Regions from separate parts of the Homo sapiens genome. Here all the other regions are linked to region 4. The links come from fine-mapping of genetic effects on gene expression. A gene starts in region 4. Each other region holds a variant in brackets. All regions are shown on one strand. Distances are from middle to middle. Region 1 has its middle 16 kb from the start of SLC16A5. Region 2 holds the start of LOC124904055 (a long non-coding RNA gene). Region 3 overlaps NUP85 (nucleoporin 85). Region 4 holds the start of NUP85 (nucleoporin 85). Region 5 holds the start of NT5C (5', 3'-nucleotidase, cytosolic).

The links.
Region 1: its variant is fine-mapped to the expression of NUP85 in cerebellar hemisphere (GTEx, PIP above 0.99).
Region 2: its variant is fine-mapped to the expression of NUP85 in whole blood (GTEx, PIP 0.98).
Region 3: its variant is fine-mapped to the expression of NUP85 in blood mononuclear cells (TOPMed, PIP above 0.99). The same link has a PIP of 0.9 or more in T cells, lung and whole blood.
Region 5: its variant is fine-mapped to the expression of NUP85 in lymphoblastoid cells (GTEx, PIP above 0.99). The same link has a PIP of 0.9 or more in tibial artery and tibial nerve.

The regions. Positions count from the first base shown.
Region 1 is chr17:75,069,094-75,074,192 of GRCh38, reverse strand. No RefSeq gene overlaps it. Among named protein-coding and RNA genes, the nearest start is that of SLC16A5, 16 kb to the left of the region's middle. The variant A/G (reference allele first, on the strand shown) is at 2,875.
Region 2 is chr17:74,376,258-74,381,356 of GRCh38, reverse strand. LOC124904055 (a long non-coding RNA gene) reads right to left here and starts at 1,103. Exons shown (of 2, transcript XR_007065898.1): 1 at 1,017-1,103; 2 at 1-351. RefSeq lists a silencer at 1,742-1,841. The variant G/A (reference allele first, on the strand shown) is at 2,799.
Region 3 is chr17:75,224,057-75,229,155 of GRCh38, reverse strand. It overlaps NUP85 (nucleoporin 85), which reads right to left. Exons shown (of 19, transcript NM_024844.5): 8 at 3,919-4,053; 9 at 3,692-3,814; 10 at 3,327-3,458; 11 at 2,999-3,105. Among named protein-coding and RNA genes, the nearest start is that of NUP85, 21 kb to the right of the region's middle. RefSeq lists enhancers at 2,502-3,701, 3,965-4,466. The variant C/T (reference allele first, on the strand shown) is at 2,386.
Region 4 is chr17:75,202,837-75,207,935 of GRCh38, reverse strand. It overlaps NUP85 (nucleoporin 85), which reads right to left and starts at 2,257. Exons shown (of 19, transcript NM_024844.5): 1 at 2,142-2,257. The coding sequence starts at 2,174. RefSeq lists enhancers at 1-158, 2,246-2,425, 1,584-2,517, 2,518-3,452.
Region 5 is chr17:75,128,603-75,133,701 of GRCh38, reverse strand. It overlaps ARMC7 (armadillo repeat containing 7), which reads right to left. Exons shown (of 3, transcript NM_024585.4): 3 at 3,430-5,025. The coding sequence ends at 4,664. It overlaps NT5C (5', 3'-nucleotidase, cytosolic), which reads left to right and starts at 1,960. Exons shown (of 5, transcript NM_014595.3): 1 at 1,960-2,168; 2 at 2,421-2,521; 3 at 2,597-2,657; 4 at 2,835-2,949; 5 at 3,060-3,474. The coding sequence starts at 1,995. The coding sequence ends at 3,214. RefSeq lists silencers at 1,798-2,367, 2,737-2,941 and an enhancer at 2,978-3,067. The variant G/A (reference allele first, on the strand shown) is at 1,951.

The DNA.
Region 1 (5,099 bases), 130 kb after region 4:
TTCTTCTGCTCAGCTTAATGAGAATGAGGGTGCAGTGCTGGATGGCCCACGGCCTAGCCCTCTGCTTGGAGGGCTGCTCCCACTCCCTGAGAGCCTGTCTCTAATTCGAAGGAATCAGGTTATTTGCTCCTAACAGTGATGATCATAGGGTTTCAGGCCACAGGAAAGGGCCTTGGAGAGCTCAGGAGGCAGCAGGGCCAGAAGGGGCATAGCAGGTATACAGCCGTGTGGGCGCCCTGCGGCAGTGCTGCCAGGCCCAAGTCCCACATAAGCCTTTAGTCTCCACCTATCCCAGCAACGGGGATTTTCATTGTTATATTACACAACAGTGCAATTCCAAGTGCTGTCCATGAACCACTGCTGGCTCTTAGCAACATAAGAAGCTCATGCCAGGTTGTAAATCAATGTAGTCCTTCCTTCACTGACAAAGTCTTTTTTTTTTTTTTAAGGCAGTGTCTCGCTTTGTCCCCCAGGCTGGAGCACAGTGGTGCAATCTCAGCTCACTGCAACCTCTGTCTGCCTCCCTGGCTGAAGCCATATTCCCAGCTTAAGCCATCTTCCCACCTCAGCCTCCTGAGTAGCTGAGGCTACAAAATCTTGCAATGAAAAAAGTGTCAGCCGGGTGAGGTGGCTCACGCCTGTAAATCCCAGCACTTTGAGAGGCCCAGGGGGGCAGATCACTTGAGGTCAGGAGATCGAGACCATCCTGGCCAACACGGTGAAACCCCGTCTCTACTAAAAATACAAAAATTAGCTGGGTGTGGTGGCGCGCGCCTGTAATCCCAGGTACTCAGGAGGCTGAGGCAGGAGAATAGCTTGAACCTGGGAGGCAGAGGTTGCAGTGAGCCAAGATCACCCCATTGCACACCAGCCTGGGCGACAGAGCAAGACTCCATCTCAAAAAAAAAAAAGTATATATATATATAGGCCGGGCGTGGTGGTGCATGCTTGTAATCCCAGCTAATTGGGAGGCTGAGGCAGGAGGATTGCTTGAACCTGACAGGTGGAGGTTACAGTGAGCTGAGACTGAGTTACTGCCATCCAGAGACTCAAAATAAATAAATAAATAAATAAATAAATAAATAAATAAATAAATATGTATATATATATATATACAGTATATTAAACACAATTTGGTTTTTTTTTTTTTGAGACAGAGTCTCACTCTGTTGCCCAGGCTGGAGTGCAGTGGTGCAGTCTTGGCTCACTTCAACCTCTGCCTCCCGGATCAAGCGATTCTTGATTCTCATGCCTCAGCTACTTGAGTAGCTGTGATTACAAGCGTGCGGCACCACGTCTGGCTAATTTTATTTTTTTTGGTATATTTTAGTAGAGACGGGGTTTCACCATGTTGGCCAGACTCGTCTTGAACTCCTGGCCTCGAATGATCTGCCTGCCTCGGCCTTCCAAAATGCTGGGATTACGGGTGTGAATCACGGCTCCCAGCCTTAAACACAATTTGAAAATGGAGGCGACCTGGCACCAGTGCTCACGCCTGTAATCCCAGCACTTTGGGAGGCTGAGGCAGGCAGATCACCTGAGGTCAGGAGTTCAAAATTAGCCTGGCCAACATGGTGAAACCCCGTCTCTACAAAAAATACAAAAATTAGCTGGGCGAAGTGGCAGGTGCCTGTAATCCCAGCTACTTGGGAAGTTGAGGCAGGAGAATTGCTTGAACCCAGGAGGCAGAGGTTGCAATGAGTTGAGGTCGTGCCATTACACTCCAGATTGGGCGACAAGAGAGAAACTCCATCTCAAAAAAAAAAGAAAGGAAAATGGAGGAAAGGGGGAGAGTCACACAACCTAAAGTGATGCGCTTGGATTTTGATATGTTGATAGAGGTTTCATACATACAATTCTGAATCCTTATTTAACTCACTAGTACTTTTTATGCCACAACATGACCCTGGTGACCATGACTTTAATAGCTGCTTAATTTTCTTCCAAGGAAATGTGAACAAAATAATGTCTTCATTTAGAAATATGACTGATGGGGGCTTGGCAGGGATTACTAGGCTCCGGAAGAGGCTGTGTTATCTTCCAGCCCAACTGTCCACATTTAGAAGTGACAACATTCATGAACTAAGTCAACATCCACCAAAAATAACATAAGATAAAGCTCACCGTTTTGGAACATGAAAATGACACACACAGACCTCACCCACCAATCTCTAAGCTGGGACAACAAACGCTTGCATTTAAACTTCTCTAAAATGTCAAATTAGCATATTCTTTCCCTCCATGTAAAGTTTCAATAAACTTGACTCAATCTGCCTTTATTTTAAAAACCTTACAAAAGATGTATTTAAATCCTTGAAAAAATTAACTTTAGGCTGGATGCGATGGCTCAGGCCTGTAATCCCAGCACGTTGGGAGGCCAAGGTGGGCGATCACATGAGGTTAGGTGTTCGAGACCAGCCTGACCAACATGGTGAAACCCTGTCTCTACTAAAAATACAAAATTAGGCAGGCATGGTGGCACATGTCTGTATCCAAGGTACTCAGGAGGCTGAGGCAGGAGAATCACTTGAACCCAGGATGTGGAGGTTGCAGTGAGCCGAGATAGTGCCATTGCACTCCAGCCTGGGCAACAAGTGTGAAACTCTGTCTCAAAAAAAAAGAAAAATTAACTTTATACTGTGTGCACAAATAAATTTCTCTTATACAGCTAAATATGGTTACATACTTTGTTTAAAAAAATTTTTTTTCCACTAATGACACTTCACATGTATTTCTACATAAACTATCTTTCTATTCTTCTGGGAATGTGTCCTAAGAGCTGACAGACGGACGGTTGAAAATACCCTCACACGGCTGGGCACAGTGGCTCAGGCCTGTAATCCCAGCACTTTGGGAAGCCGAGGCAGGTGGATC[A/G]CCTAAGGTCAGGAGTTTGAGACCAGCCTGGCCCACATGGCAAAAACCCGTCTCTACTAAAAATACAAAAATTAGCCGGGTGTGGTGGCGGGCGCTTGTAATCCCAGCTACCTCGGGAGGCTGAGGCAGGGGAATCGCTTGAACCTTGGAGGTGGAGGTTGCAATGGGCCAAGATGGTGCCACTGCACTCCAGCCTGGGCAACAGAGCAAGACTCCATCAAAAAAAAAAGAGAGAAAGAGAGAGAAGGAAAGAAAGAAAGAGAGAAAGAAAGAAAGAGAAAGAAAGAAAGAAAGAAACAGAAAGAAAGAAAGGAAGGAAGAAAGAAGAAAGAAAGAAAGAAAGAAAGAAAGAAAGAAAGAAAGAAAGGCCTCAACCACCCAGGCTCAAGCAATCCTTTTACCTCAGCCTCGAAAGAAAGAAAGAAGGAAGGCAGGCAGGCAGGCAGGCAGGCAAGCAAGCAAGCAAGCAAGCAAGCCTTGACCTTCCAGGCTCAAGCAATCCTTTCACCTCAGCCTCCCAAGTACCTGGGTTTATAGGTATGAGCCACCTCTCCTGGCCAAGCATATATTTTTTTCTTTTTTTGAGACAGGGTTTCTCACTCTGTTGCCCAGGCTGGAGTACAGTGGCACAATCATAGCTCCCTGCAGCCTCGAATACGATCCACCTGCCCCGGCCTCCCAAAGGGCTGGGATTACACAAATGAGCTACCACATCTGGCCGATATTTTATTTTTATTTATTTATTTGTTTTTGAGACAGAGTCTCACTCTGTTGCCCAGGTTGGAGTGCAGTGGCGTGATCTTGGCTCACTACAACCTCCACCTCCCGGGTTCAAGTGATTCTCCTGCCTCTGCCTCCTGAGTAGCTGGAATTACAGGCACCTGCCGCCATGCCTGGCTCATTTTTGTATTTTAGTAGAGACGGGGTTTCACCATATTGGCTGGGCTTGTCTCGAACTCCTGACCTCAGGTGATCTGCCCACCTTGCCTTCCCAAAGTGCTGGGATTACAGGCGTGAGCCACCACGCCCGGCCCCAGTCTTTTTTTTTTTTTAATTGGGCAGTCCTCTGAATCAGAGTAAGTTCAGAAAGATTCTAGGAAAACCATGATCTTAATGAAAGTATTTAAGTAAAAATTAAAATGAAAATATAAAACTTAGAAGCAATTTAATTGCCCTGTATAGAAAATTGATCAAGGAATTAATCTGGCTTCATGGAGTAACAGTTTACTCCAGGGGAAAGCTTTACTGATGAAAATCTTTCTGTGTGGTATGACTCTTATTAAAAATTTAGCTCTGTGCTGCCACCTGGGCTTTATGGCTGGGGAGATCCAGTGATACTGAAATTATCTCCTGCCAGTACAGATGCTGTATCAGAGCCTCCTGCAAGTCCCAACTGGACTGTGGCCATGCAGAACTCCAGGGTTCTGGGCAGGTCCATGTCCTCTTTTGCAAGTAACTATTTCACTGGGCCCTGACCGAGATGGAACACCTAGTTCATGGGACATCAAGTGACCCTGTGGCCTGAGCTGCCCGTCACCAACTAGGTGTTGTGTATTACACCAACCGAATTAGGAGTAATTAACAAAAATTTTTTTCTTTTGTAGAGACAGGTCTTGCTATGTTGCCCAAGATGGTCTTGAACTCCTGGCCTCAAGCAATCCTCTCACCTCAGCCTCCCAAAGTGCTGGGATTACAGGTGTGGGCCATGGTAACTGGCCAATTTTTTTTTTTTTTTTTAAGAGACAGGTTCTGGCTGGGCATAGTGGCTCACGCCTGTAATCCCAGCACTTTGGGAGGCCGAGCCGGGTGGATCACGAGGTCAGGAGATCAAACCATCCTGGCCAACATGGTAAAACATTGTCTCTACTAAAAATACAAAAATTAGCTGGATGTGGTGGCACACGCCTGTAATCCCAGCTACTCGGGAGGCTGAGGCAGGAGAATCGCTTGAACCTGGGAGGCGGAGGTTGCAGTGAGCCTAGATGATACCATTGCACTCCAGCCTGGGCAACAAGAGTGAAACTCCGTCTCAAAAAAAAAAAAAGAGAGACAGTGTCTCACTCTGTCTCTCAGGCTAGAGGGCACAGCTCACTGCAGCTTTGAAATCCTTGGCTCAAGTGATCCTCCCACCTCAGCCTCCTGAGTAGCTGGAACTACAGGCATGTGTCACCACGCCTGGCTAATTAAAAAAAAAATTTTATAGATGGGGCCTATGTTGCCCATCC
Region 2 (5,099 bases), 830 kb after region 4:
ACAGCATCAGCTGGCATGGCTGGGTGGTGAGCGAACCCTGGATTGCTTCCACAGTGGGCCGCGCTAACTGTGGCAAATCAAGTCTTTCTCTGCCAGCTGGAGGAGCTGCTACTCTGATGCGCAGGTACCCAAGGCCTCAGCAGGTGTGGCTGGAATGCCACTGGGTCGGGAAAATGAGGTCTAGGACAAGCATGAGGCTCTCTTGGGTCTAACTGAGCTGATCCATTCACCTGGGAAGAAGAAGAAGGGAGGCGCCATGGAGACAAGCCAATAGGACCAAGCCCTTTGTCCTGGTCCCTGGGGACAATCCTGAGGCTGGGAAGCCAAGATCTGCAGAGTTATTCTTGGGACCTAGGGAAGGGTACAGACACTCCCGTTAAAAAAGCAAGCGAGCAAACCAAACGTCTTCCTTGTGAACTGAACCTCCAGAGGTCCCAGGTACTTGGAGGAATTGGAATAAGGTGAATCACAGGTTTCCCCACTTAGAGTCAAAATACAGCCCTTAGCAACCAGTCCCGCCTAGTGGTTACCTACTGAATACATTGCTCTCCCTGAGGGCAGAGTCCTTGGAAATAATCTCTAAGGAGGACATAGAAAAACCTGTCTGCCCTTGTCTCCACTGGCCACACCAGAGCTGCTGTCCCAGAATGAAAGCACAGCTCTGAGAGGGTGGTCACCTGGACTGGCCAGGGCTATGCTCCCACGGTGCTCCCTGGTCAGGGGTCCCAGCCATTTCAATAGGTGGTAGAAGCTCTTCTAGCCAGCCCTGCCCCATCACCTTCACCGTTAAGCTGTTTCCAGCCCTTTTCCACAATCCTTCGACATCCCTGGGAGACAGAGTCACTGGGCCCTTCTTTCATGGATACAGAGCAAGCTCCTCCCCCAACCCCACACACAGGGCCTCAAAGTCCTCTCTGAGACCGCAGCCTTCCCTAGGCTGTGGTTAAAGCCACTTAAAGCCAACTCCCGTACCTGCCCCTTCCCTCCATCTAGATGGGTCCCTTCCTCCATCCTACCCGGCTCCTGTGGCACTGCCTGCCTGCCCCTCCCTCCGAAGAGCGGTGTGGTAAGGCAGGGGCTGCGGTGCCAGGGCATCTTGGCACGCCTCTCCCGCCCCACCCCGCCCCGCCTGCTAAATATATATCTTGGAGGAGTCCTGGAAGGAGCCGCCACAGATGTGATTAACTCTTTCACCTCCAGCACCGTGGAGAGAGGGCAGGCTGGAAGGAGCAGTGGGAAGTGGGGGTACCCAAGTCCTGCCCAGGCTCAGCTGGGGGATGGGAGGACTCGGCCCCTCACGCCAGGCTGGGAGGACGGGGTCCTGGGATCCCAGAGACGCTGACTGAAGCCCTGAGGCTCCGCAGCCTGGCAGGCCAAGCTCCCCAGAGTGGGGAAGGCAGGTGAGCAGAACCCGAGGCCAGCAGGAGGGGCTGGCAGGACCCTGCGAAGGAGAGTGGAGAGAGGAGGGCGATGAACGATGAAAGGGCCCTTCACACCACTCTGCACAGGAAACCACCAAAGTCATCTGAGAAAATTGCAGGGCCCTGCAGCCCCGTGGCTGGCCAGCCCCAGCGTGGCAGACGTGGCTTTAGGGTGGAGGAGACTGACAGAGGGTACAAAGCCCTCCCACCCAACTACTCGGTGCTGGCTGCTGGCCCAGGGCAGGCAGTTTCTTTGCAGTAACTCGATCTTCCTTTGAACCTTGGCTTAAAGGCCCGCCCTCCCACTCCCTGGCCCGACCGTCCAGCCAGTCCTGCAGCGCCCCCTGCTGTCTGAGCTGACAGGGACATGCAAAAGGAGGAGGTGGGCAGAAAACCCGCCAGGGAGCTCAGGCCACCCCCAGCGACAAGGAGGCCAGGGAAGCAAGATTTCCAAGACACCCCCATGCCAAGGGCTGTCCCTTGGTCCCTGCCAGCCAGCACCTCTGTAATCTGGCCAACCAAAGTGCTCAATGTTTTCTTTTTTTTTTGAGACAGTGTCTGGCTCTGTCGTCCAGGCTGGAGTGCAGTGGTGTGATCTCAGCTCGCTGCAGCCTCAAACTCCTGGGCTCAAGTGATCCTTCCACCTTAGCCTCCTGAGCAGCTGGGATTACAGGTGCCCACCACCATGCCCGGCTAAATTTTTTTTATTTTTATTTTTGGTGGAGACAGGGTTTCGCCACGTTGCCCAGGCTGCTCTCGAACACCTGGTCTCAAGTCATTCTCCTGCCTTGCCTCCAAAGTGCTAGGGTTATAGGCCTGAACCACTGTGCCCAGCTGGCTAAATGCTTAATTTGGAAAATATGGTCTTGCTTTCTGGGCCAGGGTGCTGAATGGATTCTGCACGATCCCTCTGGAAGCTTGTCTCCCCGTCCCCATCATGTCACCCACCCCACCACTGGTAAAGCCACCTCCTCGGCCCGGGCATGGTGACAGGAAGGGAGCCTTGTCACCTTGTCAGAATCGAGGGACACTCATGTCTGTGGACTGGAGCTCCCATGAAAGATCCCAGAGCAGAAGCGACAGATGTGGCTCCCTTTTATCCAGCCAGCATGCCTCCTCTTTCGGACTGAAAAAAAGAGGGGAAGGGGAAGAGGAGCAGAGCACTCATGGGGGAGGACCAAAGTGAGCATGGGAGTCAGAGAGAGGGGCAGAGGCTGCGTGTGTGGTGGGGCCTGAGACCATGCCCCGGAAGCAACCTGGTTGCGTTGATATCCATTCCAGAGACAAAAAGAAATGTGCTGCTCAGGCCGGGCGCGGTGGCTCACGCCTGTAATCCCAGCACTTTGGGAGGCCGAGGCGGGCAGATCACCTGAGGTC[G/A]GGAGTTCGAGACCAGCCTGGCCAACACAGTGAAACCCCTGTCTCTACTAAAAATACAACAATCAGCTGGGTGTGCTGGCACGCACCTGTAATCCCAGCTACTCGGGAGGCTGAGGCAGGAGAATAGCTTGAACCCAGGAGGCGGAGGTTGCAGTGAGCTGAGATCGAGATCGCGCCACTGCACTCCAGCCTTGGCGACAGAGCAAGACTCCATCTCATAAAAAAAAGAAAAAAGAAAGAAACGTGCTGCTAAGGGGGAGTGTGCAGTGATAGCACTGCAAACCGGAGCGACTGGGAAACCCAACACAGAGGGAAAGAGCTGTTTGAGGTCTGAGCAATGAGGAAGCCAGGAAAGGTGCCAGTGGCAGCAGGACACCCCGCCAGAGAGCACATAAGAGTGGCCGAGGGAAAAGGGGGCCCGAAACCCAATTGTGATTAAGAAAGTCAAGAAGGCCAGTGCCGTGGCTCACACCTGTAATCCCAGCACTTTGGGAGGCTGATGCAGGAGGATCGCCTGAGCTTAGGAGTTGGAGACCAGCATGGGCAACATAGGGAGACCTCGTCTCTACAAACAAACAAACAAAAAATTAGCGAGGCATGGTGGTGCATGCCTGTGGTCCCAGCTACTTGGGAGGCTGAGGCCAGAGAATTGCTTGAGCCTGGGAGGTTGAGGCTGCAGTGAGCCGTGGTCGTGCCACTGCACTCCAGCCTGGGTGGCAGAGCGAGACCCTGTTTCCTAAAAGGAAAAGAGGCCTGTAATTCCAGCACTTTGGGAGGCCGAGGCAGACACATCACTTGAGCCCAGAAATTCAGGAGCAGCCTGGGCAACATGGTGCAACCCCCACTCAGAAAGAAAGAAAGAGAGGAAGGAAGGAAGGAGGGAGGGAGGGAGGGAGGAAAGGAAGGAAGGAAGGAAACGAACGAGAAAGAAAATAACCTTTTCTGAATGAAAAGATACTCTCAGTGTGGAAATTAAAAGGCCCACCTCCAGGTACCTGTTCAACAAGGGTGAATCTTCAAAAACTTCAAGATCTTCCAGGAAGAAAGGAGAGATCATGTTTAAAGATACGAGACTGGCTTTGAGTCCTGTTACGCCAGCCAAGGAGAAGAGAAAGGTGGGGATAGTTCGTATACAGCCAAGAGAAAAGTGACTTTTATTAAAGCCTGGATCCACAGCCAAGGAACATTTGTCCTTAAAATACCCATAGTTTCCCCCAACCCAAATTCATATGTTGAAGACCTTCCCCAGGTTGGATGAGAGCCCATCGTAACAGCCTCGTTTGAACTTCATCACCTCTTTCAAGGCCCTATCTTCAAATGCCGTCCCATTTTGAGGTACTGGGGACACAGGGAGAAGGTGACCTTCTGCAGGGCAAGGAGAGAGGCCTCAGAAGAAACCCAAGCTGCTAACACCTTCTTCTTTTCCTTTTCAGACAAGGTCGCCCTTTACTCTGTCATCCAGGCTGGGGTGCAGTGGCGTGGTCTTGGCTCACTGCAGCCTCGACCTCCTAGGCTCAGGTGATCCTCCACTACATCCAGCTGTTTTTGTATTTTTGGTAGAGACAGGGTCTTCCTATGCTGTTTAGCCTGGTCTTGAACTCCTGGGCTCAAGTGATCCCCCTGCCTCAGCCTTCAAAAGTGCTGGGATTATAGGTGTGAGCCACTACATTTGGTCAATACATTGTTTTGAACTTCCAGCCTCCAGAACTGTAAGAAAACACATTTCTGGCCAGGCAGGGTGGCTCACGCCTATAATCCCAGCACTTTGGGAGGCTGAAGCAGGTGAATCACTTGAGGTCAGGAGTTCGAGACCAGCCTGGCCAACATGCGAAACCCTGTCTCTACTGAAAATACAAAAATTAGCCAGACGTGGTAATGCATGCCTGTAGTCCTAGCTACTTGGGAAGCTGAGGCAGCAGGATCACTTGAACCCAGGAGGTGGAGGTTGCAGCGAGCCGAGATTGTGCCACTGCACTCCAGCCTGGGCGACAGAGTAAGACTCCATCTCAAAAACAAACAAACAAACAAACAAAAACTCATATGTTGTTTAAGCCACCCAGTCTGCGGTATTTTTTTAATGCAGCCCTTGAAAACTAATAGAGTCCAGAAAACAATTTGTCAACCAACTTCCAAACAGCAAAAATCATATATACCCTTGGGAAGAAATGAAAGACATGTGAGCAATAACCATCCTCAGATATTAACAAAGGACAAATGATAGACCGTAAGATCAAACAGCACATCAAACCTGTGGTGGGAATTGTTAGGAAAGAAACTCAGAATTTCAAAAAGGATTTTCTT
Region 3 (5,099 bases), 21 kb before region 4:
GGTTATTGAAGGAAGACTTGTCACCTTTTAGCTCGATACTTTTGGAGGACTTGAAGGGCACCAGGAAACTGCCGACATCTTGCCCAACTCCCAGTGAAGTGCACCCCAGCTGTTTCCTCTTGCCAGACAGCAAGGAACTGGCCCGTCTTCAGAGGAAGCTGTAAGCCAGGAGGGAAGAAGGGACCCTGTGGAGGACTCCTGCCATCTCCTTTCAGCTAAGGGGTTAGCAGTCAAGCATGCCCACCCAGGCACTGAGAGACAAACCCCTGGCCCTTTAGCAGGGCTGACGAACTACAGCCTCTGAGTCAGGATCCCCTGGCTGCCTTTTCTGCCCCTTAGGGTCTGGCACGATTATTGACATAGGAGTAAATCAGGGGCCCACTTAGAAACCTCCCTTCTCCATGTTCATATGAAGGTGGTGTGAACAGGAAAGGAAAAAAAAGAAAGAAACCTTTTTTCTAATGCCTTTAAAAAGGCATGCCAACAGCTCACTGGCTCAAGTCCAGAAAGAGACACACTTCCCTGCCGCCCAGAACTGTGCATGGGTCTGACTGATACATCCCATGAGAAAACAAGTGCCCACAAGACCCCAATTCAACCTTTCCCCAGAGCCAGGAGGGCACACTTCCTAAAACTGCTACTGCCTCTGAAGACATTGCAGCCCATTTCACAATTCCTGGGACAAGCTCTGCTTTTCTGTTCCTCTTTCAAAACAGGATAGGAGGTAGCCTCGTGATCAGAGAAATGCAAACTCCAAGATTTCCCACTAACAGAGCTCAGATCCCTTCCTGCTTGTGAGAGTGGAGAGAGGCTGAGACTGGGGGACTGCAAGCCTAATCATTCCTTGTCTGTGTCCGGCACGAGAGTGATGTTGTTCACCCCTCTTCATGGTACTTCTCTTTCTCTTCTGCCACTGGAAACAGCAGGATGCTTTCCCCTTTTATACTCCCTGCATCCAACAGACTTCTTCTGCTCAAATCTGTTTTATTCCTAAAAATCCAGATACAGGGCTTATAAATTAGGAAGCCCTGGTGAAACTCACTCACTGTTATAACACAGGAAATTTAGAATACTCAACTATGGGCAGAGACACCAACAAAGCCAAACGATGGTGTGTTTGTGTGTTTTTAAGTTATTCTCACTAATTCTTCCATGCAGGGACTTCTCACAATGTTTACAGGCCTGTGAAAATATTGACACAAAACTTGACTTTCAGGCCGGGCATGGTGGCTTACGCCTGTAATCCTAGCACTGTGGGAGGCCAAGACAGGCAGATCGCTTGAGCTCACAAGTTCAAGAACAGCTTGGGCAACATAGTGAAACCTCATCTCTCCAAAAAAAAAAATAATAATTAGCCAGGCATGGTGGCGCACACTTGTAGTCCTAGCTACCTGGAAGGCTGAGGCAAGAGGATCACTTGAACCCAGGAGGTCAAGGCTGCAGTGAGCTGAGATCACTCCACTGCACTCCAGCCCGGGTGACAAAGTGAGACCCTGTTTCAAAAAAAAAAAACTTGGCAGGGCGCGGTGGCTCACGCCTGTAATCCCAGCACTTTGGGAGGCCGAGATGGGCAGATGACCTGAGGTCAGGAGTTCCAGACCAGCCTGCCTAGGCAACATGGTGAAACCCTGTCTCTATTGAAAAACACAAAAATTTGCTGGGCGTGGTGACGGACACCTGTAATCCCAGCTACTTGGGAGACTGAGGCAGTAGAATTGCTGGAACCCAGTAGGTGGAGGTTGCAGTGAGCCAAGATCACGCCACTGCACTCCAGTCTGGGTGACAAGAGCAAAACTCTGTCTCAAAAAAAAAAAAAAAAAAAAAAAAAACCCAGAAACAAACACACAAAAAACTTGTTTTTCATTCCCCAAATCTAGTATCATTTTCTTGAAGCCCTGGCATTCTTTTGGCCAAAACAAGAAAAGCAGGTAGGGCGAAGGAAACTCTTCCCATGCCCAGATCTACAAACAGCCAGTTGAGGTCAGTGAATCTGACACCTGATCAAGGCCATCTTCTGCCATTACCCACTTCCTCCCTTCCCAGCACGTCTTCAGTGCAATGCCCACCATCCAGGGTGCACAACAAGGAAGGGGACCTTCTTTCTGACTTACCATATATGGAGAGTTCTGGAAAGGTTTACCTTTGATTGATTATGTTTGGCACTCCCTTTCCTGCCTTGCTAAAGATTCAGTGCAATCATAGAACACCCTCTTTTGGATAGAGGGCTGGAAATTCTGAATAATACCCAGCCTGAAGCCCAGTGGTTCGGTAGCTCACGTCACTGGAGTGAGACTCTTGGAACACGCCATCCCATAAGGTGTCCATTAGGTGCCAAGAAACAGGCTTGCTGGCTTTTTCTAGATTTTAAATGTCAAAGTAGTTTCC[C/T]GCGATGTTATTTTAAATGAACATCCCTGAAATGGAAACAGTTATGTATATGGTAGCCCTCAAGCCTCCAGGAAGTCCCTAAGCTCACCCAGAGAAAAGCCATTATCTACCTGTGGCAAGTCAAGCAGGGGAGCAGATGCTATGGTTTGAAGGGATCCCCTCTAAAACCCCAGTTTTGCCAATGTGATAGTATTAAGAGGTAGGGCCTCTAAGAGGTGATTAGGCCAGGAGGTGATTAGGCCACATCCTCCCTCATGAATGTGATTGGGTGCCCTTATAAAGCGACTTGATGAAGGGAGTTTGTCCTTCTTGCCCTTCCACCACATGAGAACACAGTGTTCAAGGTGCCATGTTGGAAGCAGAGAGCAGCCCTCACCAGCAACATTGCCAGTGCCCTGATCCTGGACTTCCTAGCCTCCAGAACGGTGAGAAAATAATCTTTTTCTTTATAAATTATCTGGTCTCAGGTATTCTGTAATATCAGCGTGAGATGGACTAAGATAGCAGGTCTGAGGGAAGAAGGGTAAGGAAGGAACAGGCCACTCTAGAAACGCAAGGTGGTGATATTTGTACACCTAAAAATGGTTACAGTGGGGGGTGGGAGAGATCCTACCTGCACTCTTTGATTACTTGATGGATGTCAAACTCAAAGGCTGCCAACAAGATGTTGTCCAGGGGTTCTGGGCTGCTCTCACCTCCCAGAAACAGGTCCAGGCTGGACTGTGGAAAGGTGATGAGACACTCAATCCTGAGGACGGAAGCAGAGACTCGGGGCAGGCAGGGCTGCTGTATAACGAACCCCAGAGAAGGTGCCTTGTTCTTTCACTAAGGGCCAAAGGAAAGGGTCTTCCTGTTCCTCAGGGAGGAATTCAAAGAGAATGACCCATCAGGGCGCCCCCAGGACTCCTACCCCCACCCTTGCCCACCCCGAGCTCACTCACCTGGGCATAGTAGTGCAGATCAATGGGTTTTACTGTGGGATTGGAGTACAAGAGCCGAGTCACTAGGAAATGATACCAATTACTCAGAAGTTCCTTCTGCTCTAACAAGGCAGCTTCGTCTCCCAGCATAATCTGAGGAGAGACATTTGTGCTGAACTCTGTCCTCCTCTCAGGGGTACCTTCTCCATAATGCTCCTGCTCTCAGCTAAGGGCACCGGATTTCAACTAGTCTGAAAGCTCTCGCCATCACGGCAGAGCGACAGACAGCCCTATCCAAGGAGGACCAAGCTCCTGCCACTGCTGCACTGGATGCCACAGCCCCCATAGGAAGCCAACATGGATGCAATCTGAACTGCTTCCCAGACCTTCAAGAGAGACTCCAGGTGAGGGCTGGTGGCGAATGTGCTGTCCTGGAGGTACCGCTCACATTCCTCGTGCCAGTGCTGCCACTTCAGCTCCAGCTCTGTCAGTGTCTGGGTGTTCCCGGGCTAAGGGAGAGACCAGCCATGAGACGTCATCCCATCCACACCCTTTATATTTAGTGAATCACGCATCTCCTGTGACCCAGCAGAGCAAAGCTACCCCCACGTACACTAAGAATGGGCATTGTCCTCATCAGGTCCCCCATGATTCGGCATATGCCTGCAGAGGCGGGGCTGGCATCGGCTTCCTTGGAGAGCATCTGTCGGGCCTCATCCAGCCGGCCCTGCAGCACCAAGATGGTCACCTGGGAGGAGATCCGGGCCCATAAGCATTGGCAGGAGGCCTGGCCCTGCCGAGGCGTGAGGAGGCCAGTCCCCTCACCCCACACTTTGGCTTTTTAACTCTTCACACACAGGCTTCTTTCTGCACCTGAGTCTGCCCTGGGAAGAATGATGGCTCTTTCCCTCCAGAAGTAATCTATCACATCCAATCTCATGGCTTTGTCACCTCCACTATGTTTTTCAAACAGCCAGCTGTAGTCCATTATAGCCTGTGACCACCTTTTTTTTTTTTTTTTCCAGAGTTCCCCTCTTGTTGCCCAGGCTGGAGTGCAATGGCATAATCTCGGCTCACTGCAACCTCCACTTCCCGGGTTCAAGCGATTCTCCTGTCTCAACCTCCCGAGTAGCTGAGATTACAGGCGCATGCCATCACGCCCAGCTAATTTTTGTGTTTTTAGTAAAGATGGGGTTTCACCATATTGGCCAGGCTGGTCTCGAACTCCTGACCTCAAGTGATTCCCCGCCTCGGCCTCCCAAAGTGTTGGGATTACAGGCGTGAGCCACCACGCTCAGCCCCAGCTTTTCAAAAATGAAAGAAACAGAAAAACATGTTCCTCTACCTGCTTCCCCCCACCCCTTCTCCACCATCATGGTGTGTGCTGTTGATTATTTCTCCCACCATCTTCTCACAAAATGTCCAGGATCATGCAATTCCTGGCCAAGAAACAAAAGCAAAATCGTCCCATTCACCAGTGGATTCAGATTAAAACTGGTAATACAGGGCTGGGCGTGGTGGCTCACAGCTGTAATCCCAGCACTTTGGGAGGCCAAGACGGGCAGATCACAAAGTCAGAAGATCGAGACCATCCTGGTTAACATGGTGAAACCCCATCTCTACTAAAAATACAAAAAATTAGCCAGGCGTGGTGGCAGGCGCCTGTAGTCCCAGCTACTTGGGAGGCTAAGGCAGGAGAATCGCTTGAATCTGGGCGGCGGAGGTTGCAGTGAGCTGAGATTGTGCCACTGCACTCCAGCCTGGATGACAGAGTGAGACTCCATCTCAAAAAAA
Region 4 (5,099 bases):
TCACTGCAACCTCTGCCTGCTGGGTTCAAGTGATTCTCCTGCCTCAGCTTCTTGAGTAGGTGGGATTACAGGCACGCGCCACCAAACCAGGCTAATTTTTGTATTTTTTTAGTAGAGATGGGGTTTCACCATGTTGGCCAGGTTGATCTCGAACTCCTAGCCAAGCGCGGTGGCTCATGCCTGTAATCCCAGCACTTTGGGAGGCCGAGGCAGGCTGATCACGAGGTCAGGCTTTGGAGACCAGCCTGACCAAGATGGTGAAACCCCATCTCTACCAAAAATACAAAAATTAGCTGGGTGTGGTGGCACGCACCTGTAATCTCAGCTACTCAGGAGACTGAGGCAGAAGAATCGCTTGAACCCAGGAGCCAGAGGTTGCAGTGAGCTGAGATCACGCCACTGCACTCCACTCTGGGTGACAGAGTGAGAATCCGTCTCAAAAAAAGAATGAGGCCAGGCGCAGTGGCTCACACTTGTAATCCCAGCACTTTGGGAGACTGAGGCCGGCAGATCACCTGAGGTCAGGAGTTCCAGACCAGCCTGACCAACATGGAGAAACCTCGTCTCTACTAAAAAAATACAAAATTAGCCGGGCATGGTGGCACATGCCTGCAATCCCAGCTACTCAGGAGGCTGAGGCAGGAGAATTGCTTGAACCTGGGAGGCGGAGGTTGCAGAGAGCCGAGACCGCACCACTGCACTCTAGCCTGGGCGACAAGAGGGAAACTCCGCCTCAAGAGAAAAAAAAAAGAAGGCCACATATCTCCCCAGAGAGCTTCCCTCACAAATTGCTCACAAGGAAATTCCTTGTGAGCCTCTAAAATTTTCAGGATACACATCGCCCCTATAAACTAGTCCTAAAATCAAGATCTGTTGATTCTGACAATGTCAACTACCAGCTTATCTTCACAAGTAAAAGACCAGAAATCGGCCGGGTGCGGTGGCTCACGCCTGTAATCCCAGCACTTTGGGAGGCCGAGGTGGGCGGATCACGAGGTCAGGAGATTGAGACCATCCTGGCCAACACGGTGAAACCCCGTCTCTACTAAAAATACAAAAAAGTACAAAAAATTAGCCGGGCGTGGTGGCGGGCACCTGTAGTCCCAGCTACTCAGGAGGCTGAGGCAGGAGAATGGTGTGAACCCGGGAGGCGGAGGTTACAGTGAGCCGAGACCGCGCCACTGCACTCCAGCCTGGGAGACAGAGCGAGACTCCGTCTAAAAAATAACAGTAATAATAACCATAATCCCTCTACCTACCCTGAGATGAATGCATACATAAAATTTTCCTCTGCTCCCTCTTTTCACAGGTAAAATGCAGATTTACTGAGGCTAATCACCGACTCACAAGAATGTAATCATTTGCCTCCTCACTGCCTAACCTCCCTTTTTTGCCCCTCCTGCTAGCTCCTTCCTCTTTAACTAGTGATGTTCCCAAAACCATCTTTGGAAAAAGCACAGGTCTCAGATCCTCCTGTGACCTGTGCTTTTTCCCGGTTGGATCCTCAACCTTAGCTAATTAAACCTTTATCGGTTGAGACCTGCCTCAGTCACTTCTGGTTAACAAGAGGGAAAACAAGAGCAATCCAACTAGCAGAAACGGTAGGTATCTCGTACATAAAGCGCGTGAATTTTTTTTATACACATCACAGATCATCCACAGTTGACATACTGTCTTCAAAGTTCAAATGGAATTGAATGCACAGCGATAAAACAGGAATAGTCTCCTGAGATAATACGTTGAATAAACCTTAGGCCACACAGGCAGAAGCTCAATGTGCCGCGATGCAGAGCTTAATACGGCTGGAATAAAAATATAAATTCCTCTGCTTGGGCTGAACCCACTCTAATGCCCAAGAGGAAAAGCAAGGGAAGTAAAAAGGCCAGGAACACAAAGGAAGGAAAGGGACGGAGTGGGACCTTCGAGGCCGGGGTTTGTGACTGGTGGCAGAAACCCCGCGACCACTGCGACCCTAGGGCGGGCACCTCGTTAACACTGCGACCTCCGGAAAAGTGGCAACTGAGTCGAGGGAAGGGGACGAGCGCCTCGCGACCACTAGGGAAGCAGACAAGCCTGAAGTAACTAAGCAGACGCAGTTCTCAACCCGCAAGGACGAGCAAGCCTGTTCGGGGTACCCTTACAGTGACTGTTGGCTCGCCATCGAGCTCCTCCATAGCGCCGAACCCCAGGCTCCTAGAAGTCGCTCGGACGCCAATGCTTCCCGCTCAGGCCTCCCGCTCAGAGCTGGCTGCGAGACAAGACTCCGCCTGGGCGTCTCCTGCAGCGCCTGCAAGCCCAAACCCTCAGTGCTGCGGCGCTGTCTCCTCTCAGCCACGGCCACCCCTCTGCGGTCCTCTGCACGCGTCCTTCCTTCCTGGCGTCGACAGCAAATCAGGGAAAACAGCGCCGAGGACTGACTGCACTCAGAGTACCGCGCTAACAGGATCAGGCGGCGCCGGGGACACCCTGGTGCCGAGCGGAGAAAAGGCCCCCGGAGACGGCGGGAGGGGCAGGAGGACCCCGGGGCTGGAGACGGTGCGAATGCGCGTGCGTAGGCTGGGGCGGCGGCACTTGGGTGGGAACTCGTGCGGGATTTAGGTCCCAGTAAGCGTACAACGTCTCCCAACTCTGGGAGTCCTCGCTACATCCCGGTCTCCACCTTAGTGTCGTCGCAGCCACTTGTCCAAACCCCGACAGTCAAACGGGCTTGTGCTGGAAAGCAATCGCCTCCACTTCCACACTAGAACACACACAAGAGGCACGGGAACAAAATCGATACCCCTGAAGGCCCGGCGCTGTGGCTCAAGCCTCTAATCCCAACACTTTGGCAGCCCAAGGTGGGTGGATCACTGGAGTTCAGGAGTTCAAGACCAGTCTGGCCAATATGATGAAACCTCGTCTCTACTAAAAATATAAAAAATTAGACGGGCGTGGTGGCGGACACCTGTAATTCCAGCTACTCGGAAGGCTGAGGCAAGAGAATTGTTCCAACCCGGGAGGTGGAGGTTGCATTGAGCCAAGATCGCACCACTGCACTCCAGCCTGGGAGACAGAGCGAGACTCCGTCTCAAAAAAAAAAAAAAAAATTAGCTGTGCTTGGTAGCGCGCGCCTGTAATCCCAGCACTCCGGGACGCCGAGGTGGTTGGATCACCTGAGGTCAGGAGTTCAAGACCAGCCTGGACAACATGGCGAAACCCCGTCTCTACTGAAAATACAAAAATTAGCCGGGAGTGGTGGCGGACACCTGTAATCCCAGCTACTCGTAAGGCTGAGGCAGGAGAATTGTTCCAACCCGGGAGGCGGAGGTTGCAGTGAGCCAAGATCGCGCCACTGCACTCCATCCTGGGCGACAGACGGAGACTCCGTCTCAAAAAAAAAAAAATTATTTTGCTGAGTCTCAAAAAAAAATTATTTTGCTCTTTTTCTCTTAATAAGTTTCCGTTATACCTCAAGTTGGAGTTATCGCCTGTGTAATTGAAAACTTTTCCAGAGTTAAATACAGTTTGAGAGTTAACCACTCTAGAGAGAGGAAGGGGAAAAGAGAGGGGAAGGAGCCACACTCTTTTAGAGAGAGGGGAGGAGAGGAAAGAGAAAAATAAGTTGTAAGATAATTGTTTCATTTTTCCAACCGTTTTCCATTAGGATTAACTGAAAAAGAAGGATACATAAACTACTTCATCAAAACCTTATTCTTAGAAATCTATAGAAAGGTTGAGGAAGGAAAAGGTCCATATATAGTATGCGTAATCAGTATATAGAACAAGGATAGGCCGGGCGCGGTGGCTCACGCCTGTAATCTCAGCGCTTTGGGAGGCCGAGGCGGGTGGATCACCAGGTCAGGAGAGAGAGACCATCCTGGCTAACACGGTGAAACCCCATCTCTACTAAAAATACAAAAAAAAAAAAAAAAAAAAAAAAAAATCAGCCGGGCGTGGTGGCGGGTGCCTGTAGTCCCAGCTCCTCGGGAGGCTGAGACAGGAGAATGGCGTGAACCGGGGAGGCGGAGCTTGCAGTGAACCGAGATTGCACCGCTGCACTCCAGCCTGGGCGACAGAGCGAGACTCCGTCTCAAAAAAAAAAAAGAACAAGGATAGCACTATTAGCTGTAGTTTTCCTTTTTCGCCCTTGTATTACTAAGCCTATTTGAATGATTGGGTAAAATGGTTGGTATATAGCAGTATTAGACCAAAGAATATTGCCAATACTTTTTCCTCAATGTTATCTAGCTCTTGGTCAGGCAATTTAACTACTTTTATTATCTTAAATGGCATTTTGTCAGCCTTAAAATAAAAATAATCAAGGAAATATAGCACTAAGATCTAACAAGCTCTCTCTCTCTTTTTTTTTTCTTTGTCTTTTTTTTTTTTTTTTTTTTTTTGTCTTTTTGAGACAGAGTCTTGCTCTGTCGCCAGGCTGGAGTGGAGTGGCACGATCTCGGCTTACTGCAACCTCCGTCTCCCGGGTTCAAGCGATTCTGCTGCCTAAGCCTCCCGAGCAGCTGGGACTACAGGCACACGCCACTACGCCGGGCTAATTTTTTATTTTTTAGTAGAGACGGGGTTTCGCCATATTGGTCAGGCTGGACTCGAACGCCTGACCTCAGGTGATCCACCCGCCTCAGACTCCCAAAGTGCTAGGGTTACAGGCATGAGCCACCGCACCCAGCCTGGTAAAGTCTTAAGTGGATACATTTCATGCAGCCTAATAAAACTAATGCTCCTGAACCGGGCACAGTGTACATTATTTAACAAAATCTCTGGCCTCAGCCTGGGCAACAGGGCAAGAGCAAGATGCTGTCTCAAAAAATAAAAAATAAAAAAAGGCCGGGCGCGGTGGCTCACGCCTATAATCCCAACACTTCGGGAGGCCGAGGCGGGCGGATTACCTGAGCTCAGGAGTTCAAGACCAGCCTGGGCAACAAGATGAAACCCCGTCTCCACTAAAATACAAAAAATTATTTGGTCATGGCGGTTGTGCGCCTGTAGTCCCAGCTACTGAGGCTGAGGCAGGAGAATCGTTTGAACCCTGGAGGCGGAGGTTGCAGTGAGCCAAGATCATACCACTGCACTCCAGCCCGGACGACAGTGTAAGACTCCCT
Region 5 (5,099 bases), 74 kb after region 4:
CTACCTCAGCCTCCTGAGTAGCTGGGACTACAGTCACCCGCCACCATGCCCAGCTAATTTTTTTTTTTTTTTTGTATTTTTAGTAGAGACAGGGTTTCACCGTGTTAGCCAGGATGGTCCTGATCTCCTGACCTCATGATCCGCCCGCCTCAGCCTCCCAAAGTGCTGGGATTACAGGCGTGAGCTACCGTGCCCAGCCTCTGTTACATATATTTGGAAGCAGTGGGTTCATCAGATGGGGAACAATGGCGAGATGGGCCACTTAAATCTGTGTTTATAATTTTGGCTCTCCCCTCCCCCAACAGGGACTCCCTCTGTCACCCAGGCTGGAGTGCAGTGGCAGGATGAAGGCTGTGTAGCCTCAATTTCCTGGGCTCAAGGGTTCCTCCCACCTAAGGCTCATGAGTAGCTAGGACCACAGGCATGCGCCACCATACCCAGCTTATTGATTTGTTTATTGTAGAGACAGGGTCTCCCTGTGTTGCTCAGGCTGGTCTTGAACTCCTGGGCTCAAGCTGTCTCCCACCTGGGCCTCCCAAAGTGCTGGGATTACCAGCCTGAGCCACGGCGCCTGGCTTTATAGTTTGTAGGCAAATAGATTTGAGTGGAGTCAGGAAGTTTCATGACATCCACAAAAAGAAGAGTCAACAAAATGTATCACAGTTCAGCATGTTCTTTTTTTTTTTTTTTTTTTTTGAGAAGGAGTTTTGTTCTTGCTGCCCAGGCTGGAGGGCAATGGCATGATCTCGGCTCACCGCAACCTCTGCCTCCTGGATTCAAGAGATTCTCCTGCCTCAGCCTCCCGGGTAGCTGGGATTACAAGCATGTGCCACCACGCTAATTTTGTATTTTTAGTAGCGACAGGATTTCTCCATGTTGGTCAGGCTGGTCTTGAACTCCCGACCTCAGATGATCCGCCCGCCACGGCCTCCCAAAGTGCTGGGATTATAGGCGTGAGCCACCGCACCTGGCCCTGTTCAGCATTTTCTAGACGGGAGTAGGTAAGCGATGTCAGTTCCACATAAAGTCCTGAGGACAGTCCTGATTACCTGTGCTTGATCAAAATCATCTTTCCGGGGGAAACCACACTTGAAGCTCCCATGTTTCAAGCCAACTCTAGTGTGAATTAGTCTCTTAACGAGCTAGACTTACACAAACCAGTTAACAGATTCATTTCACTTTGTAGTCCTCGAGGGATTGTTCCTGCTCCACTGCACAGACGAAAGCAATCCACTGAGACCACGGTACTGCGGTAATAAGACTTTGGCCAGGTGCGGTGGCTCAAGCCTATAATCCCAACACTTTGGGAGGCCAAGGCAGGCAGATCACTTGAGGTCAGGAGTTTGAAACCAGCCTGACCAACATGGCGAAACCCCGTCTCTACTAAAACTACAAAAATTAGCCAGGCGTGGTGGCGGGTGCCTGTAATCCCAGCTACTCGGGAGGCTGAAGCAAGAGAATCGGTTGAACCCGGGAAGCGGAGGCTGCAGTGAGCCGAGATCGCGCCGCCACTGCGCCGCAGCCTGGGCGACAGAGCCAGACTCCGTCTCAAAATAAAAAAAAAAAAAAAGAAAAAAAGAAAAAAAATGTGGAGCTAGCCCCACGGGTTTAGGACCCTTGACTCCTCGTTAGATGCTTCCCAGTATTTCAGAGCATCCCTTTGTTGGGCCCCCGGAAGGTCGGTCCCCTACTAGTAACGTGGGGTGAACGGGGGTACGTCTGCCGTAAAGTGGGAGGCGGCTGATGGGGACAAAGGCTGGGTCCCGAAGAAGCGCAGGGTCAGAAAAGTGCCCCCCAAAGCCGTCCCTGCACCCGAACCCTAGGATGGCCTCGCGCAACCGCAGGGCCGTCGGCACTGGTTTACGACCTGGGCGGGGCGGCCCGGACACTCTATGCAAATCAGCCCGGCGGACTCCGGAAGCAGCGCTCCCTCCGCTTCCGGCCGAGCCC[G/A]CGCCCCCCAGACCCCGAGAGCTCGCAGCTCCGGCCCGGCGGCGATGGCGCGGAGCGTGCGCGTGCTGGTGGACATGGACGGCGTCCTGGCCGACTTCGAGGCCGGCCTCCTGCGGGGCTTCCGCCGCCGCTTCCCTGAGGAGCCGCACGTGCCGCTGGAGCAACGCCGCGGCTTCCTGGCCCGCGAGCAGTACCGCGCCCTGCGGCCCGACCTGGCGGTAGGGGGCGCAGGGTCCCCACCCGGGCAGGGCCCGCTCGCTCCGTTCCGGGGGTCTCCCCCTTCTCTGTGAAGGGCGCAGAGCTCTCACCCTGGAACCCGCGGGCAGCGCACCCTGGGGAGGAGCCTTTGGGCGCGTGCCCCTGACCGACGCCCCCTCCGCCCCTCTGAGCTCGGGCCCGGAGCCCCCAGGAGCCTCCCTGCGGGTCCTCGCGGGAACGGGAAGCCGGGACCCAGAACTCTTGTCTTTCAGGATAAAGTGGCCAGTGTGTACGAAGCCCCGGGCTTTTTCCTGGACCTGGAGCCCATCCCGGGAGCCTTGGACGCTGTGCGGGAGATGAACGACCTACCGGAGTAAGGAGAGAGGGGGGCGGGCGGAGTCCTGGGCGGGCTCCTGGCTCCCGGCGGTAACCGCGTCCTTCTCCGCAGCACGCAGGTCTTCATCTGCACCAGCCCCCTGCTGAAGTACCACCACTGTGTGGGTGAGAAGGTGTGGCTGCCCCGCCCCTACTCCGCACGTGGAGCTGCCTAAATCCTGATTTTAAAAAGAAACCACCAGAAACCCAGAAGGTGGGGGTGGGGGGCTCTCAAGGGCTTAGAGCCAAGTCCCTATCCCTGAATTCCGGCTTCCATCAGGCCCTACTCACAGACTGTGTTTTCTACACAGTACCGCTGGGTGGAGCAGCACCTGGGGCCCCAGTTCGTAGAACGAATTATCCTGACAAGGGACAAGACGGTGGTCTTGGGGGACCTGCTCATTGATGACAAGGACACAGTTCGAGGTTGGACCCGTTATCCTTGGCAGCCTCCAGGCCTCTGGCCTGCCCGGATTAGGGAGAGGGAGTAATAATACCCATGACAGATGGCAGCGCGCTGTCTTTCACTGTCCTAGGCCAGGAGGAGACCCCAAGCTGGGAGCACATCTTGTTCACCTGCTGCCACAATCGGCACCTGGTCCTGCCCCCGACAAGGAGACGGCTGCTCTCCTGGAGTGACAACTGGAGGGAGATCTTAGATAGCAAGCGCGGAGCTGCGCAGCGGGAATGAGCGGGGATGCCGCGGGCAGCAGCTGGAGCTAAAGGAAGGGCAGGCCCACAGGGGCCACCGCAGAGCCGAGTCGGGGCGGCATCGTGCTGGTGCCTCTGGCCCCGTGGAGTGGAGCAGGCAGATACCGTTAAGCGCTGTGCTACCGGGCCCCAGGCCCAGCCACCCGGTACCTCCCGAGAGGCTGTCCCTGGACCCTGGCTGGCATGGAAATACAGTGGGAAAACCAGTCGGGACCTTTAATAAAAGACCTTGGCTTTCTAGTCTTCTAGGACCCTTTATTTGGGAACATAAAGGGACAGGCTCCCTGAGCGGGTGCTGATGAGCCCTTCCCTCCCCTCTGAGTCCAGTGGTCCCCTAATCTGCCCCATTTCCATGCCCACGTGGGTACCATTTTTGTAGCACCTGCCATTCCTGGGCCATCTAAGGGGTCAGCCTTGAGGGGGTACACGAGAGGCAAGGACCCCCATTTTCCCTGAGCTCCACCTTTCCATCGGATCCCACGCTCCTTATGTTGACCAGGGGGCACCATGGACATGGAGCCACATCCTTTACGTTGCCGTCTCTTCCTGACTCCCTTGAGCAACACTCACTGCGTCCCTGATGCCCTCGTGGGATACACTTCTGGGGTAGGGCTCCCCATCATTGAGTGACAGCAGAGGAGGGCCGAAGCTTTCAGCCGGGGCCATGGGGTGGCAAGGGGAGAAGATGCAGTTACCAGGGCTGGTGCCTCTATTCCGACGTATCATCACCTGCATGGCCTTGTGCTTGATGCCCGATGGCCACATTAAGTCCCTGGGCTGTCACTCAAGGGCAGGGACCACATCTTCATCTTGGAGTCATGGTGCCTAACAGCAAGGCTGGGTGGACAGTCAATGCTGGGCCACAGGTTATCCAGGTTGGCATCCACCAGGCCCAAATGCCCAGCTTGGAGAGCCCCTGGGGGAGGCATCCATCCTCCAGAGCCCTGGAGGGGGCACCACATCTTCCCAGGGTGAGATCCTTTCACCACGAGGCATCTCATTCCTATACCTGAAAACTACTCCAGACACTTCTGTTAAGGGATAATCCCTGATTTCCTGCAGCGAAGGCAGCTCTCCTAAGCCTCAGGCCCAGCTCCTGAGAACACTGTCCTGCAAAGCCTCTGGGTCCAGGCACTTGGCCGCTTCTTACACCAGGGCCTGAGTCTGGTGGTGGTGGCACCTGATGTAGGATTGAGAGTGCCAGCCTATGAACGCAGCTCCAGTTTGATCTTCTCCGTGTCTCTGGAGTCTGGCTTCCTCACTCCCAGTGGCGTTTCATCAGTGTAAATGCCTGTCCTGCTGAAAGAACCCGCCTTTCAGATGGCTGAAAAGGCACCAATGGGGCAGTATGTGCTCCCCGTTCCCTGCGTCCACATCAGGACTGTGGTCTCCAGCAGTAGGGGTGCCACGGTCTCGCAGTCTCCATGGATCAGCGCTGCCGTGGGGCCACGCTCCTCGGCAGTGGGATACCCAGGGCAGAGTGCGCCTGCCGGCTGCGGGCCTCGGCCACCTGGCGGGGGGAGCAGAAGTCCTCCAGGAAGATCTGTGCCAGGTTCCGGAGCCTGGCGCTGGCCGAGAGGGAGAAGCGAAGCATGCACTGCACCACGGGCGTGGCGGTCAGCTCTGGGAGAAAGCTGCGGCCCGGCGGGCTCAGGTGCATGAGCGTGGTGATGGCAGACAGCACCGTCTCCTCATTGGGGCTGGATAGGCAGTTGATGATGAGTGGGACACCTCCTGCGTGCAGGATGTGCTCCTTGTTGGCCCTGTCTGGGCACAGGTTGCACAGGCCTCCTGTGGGAGAGCAAGGAAGAGTCTGGATGCTGTAGCCCCGGGCCTCCTCCCACCTCCCCTGCCCGTGAGCCCCA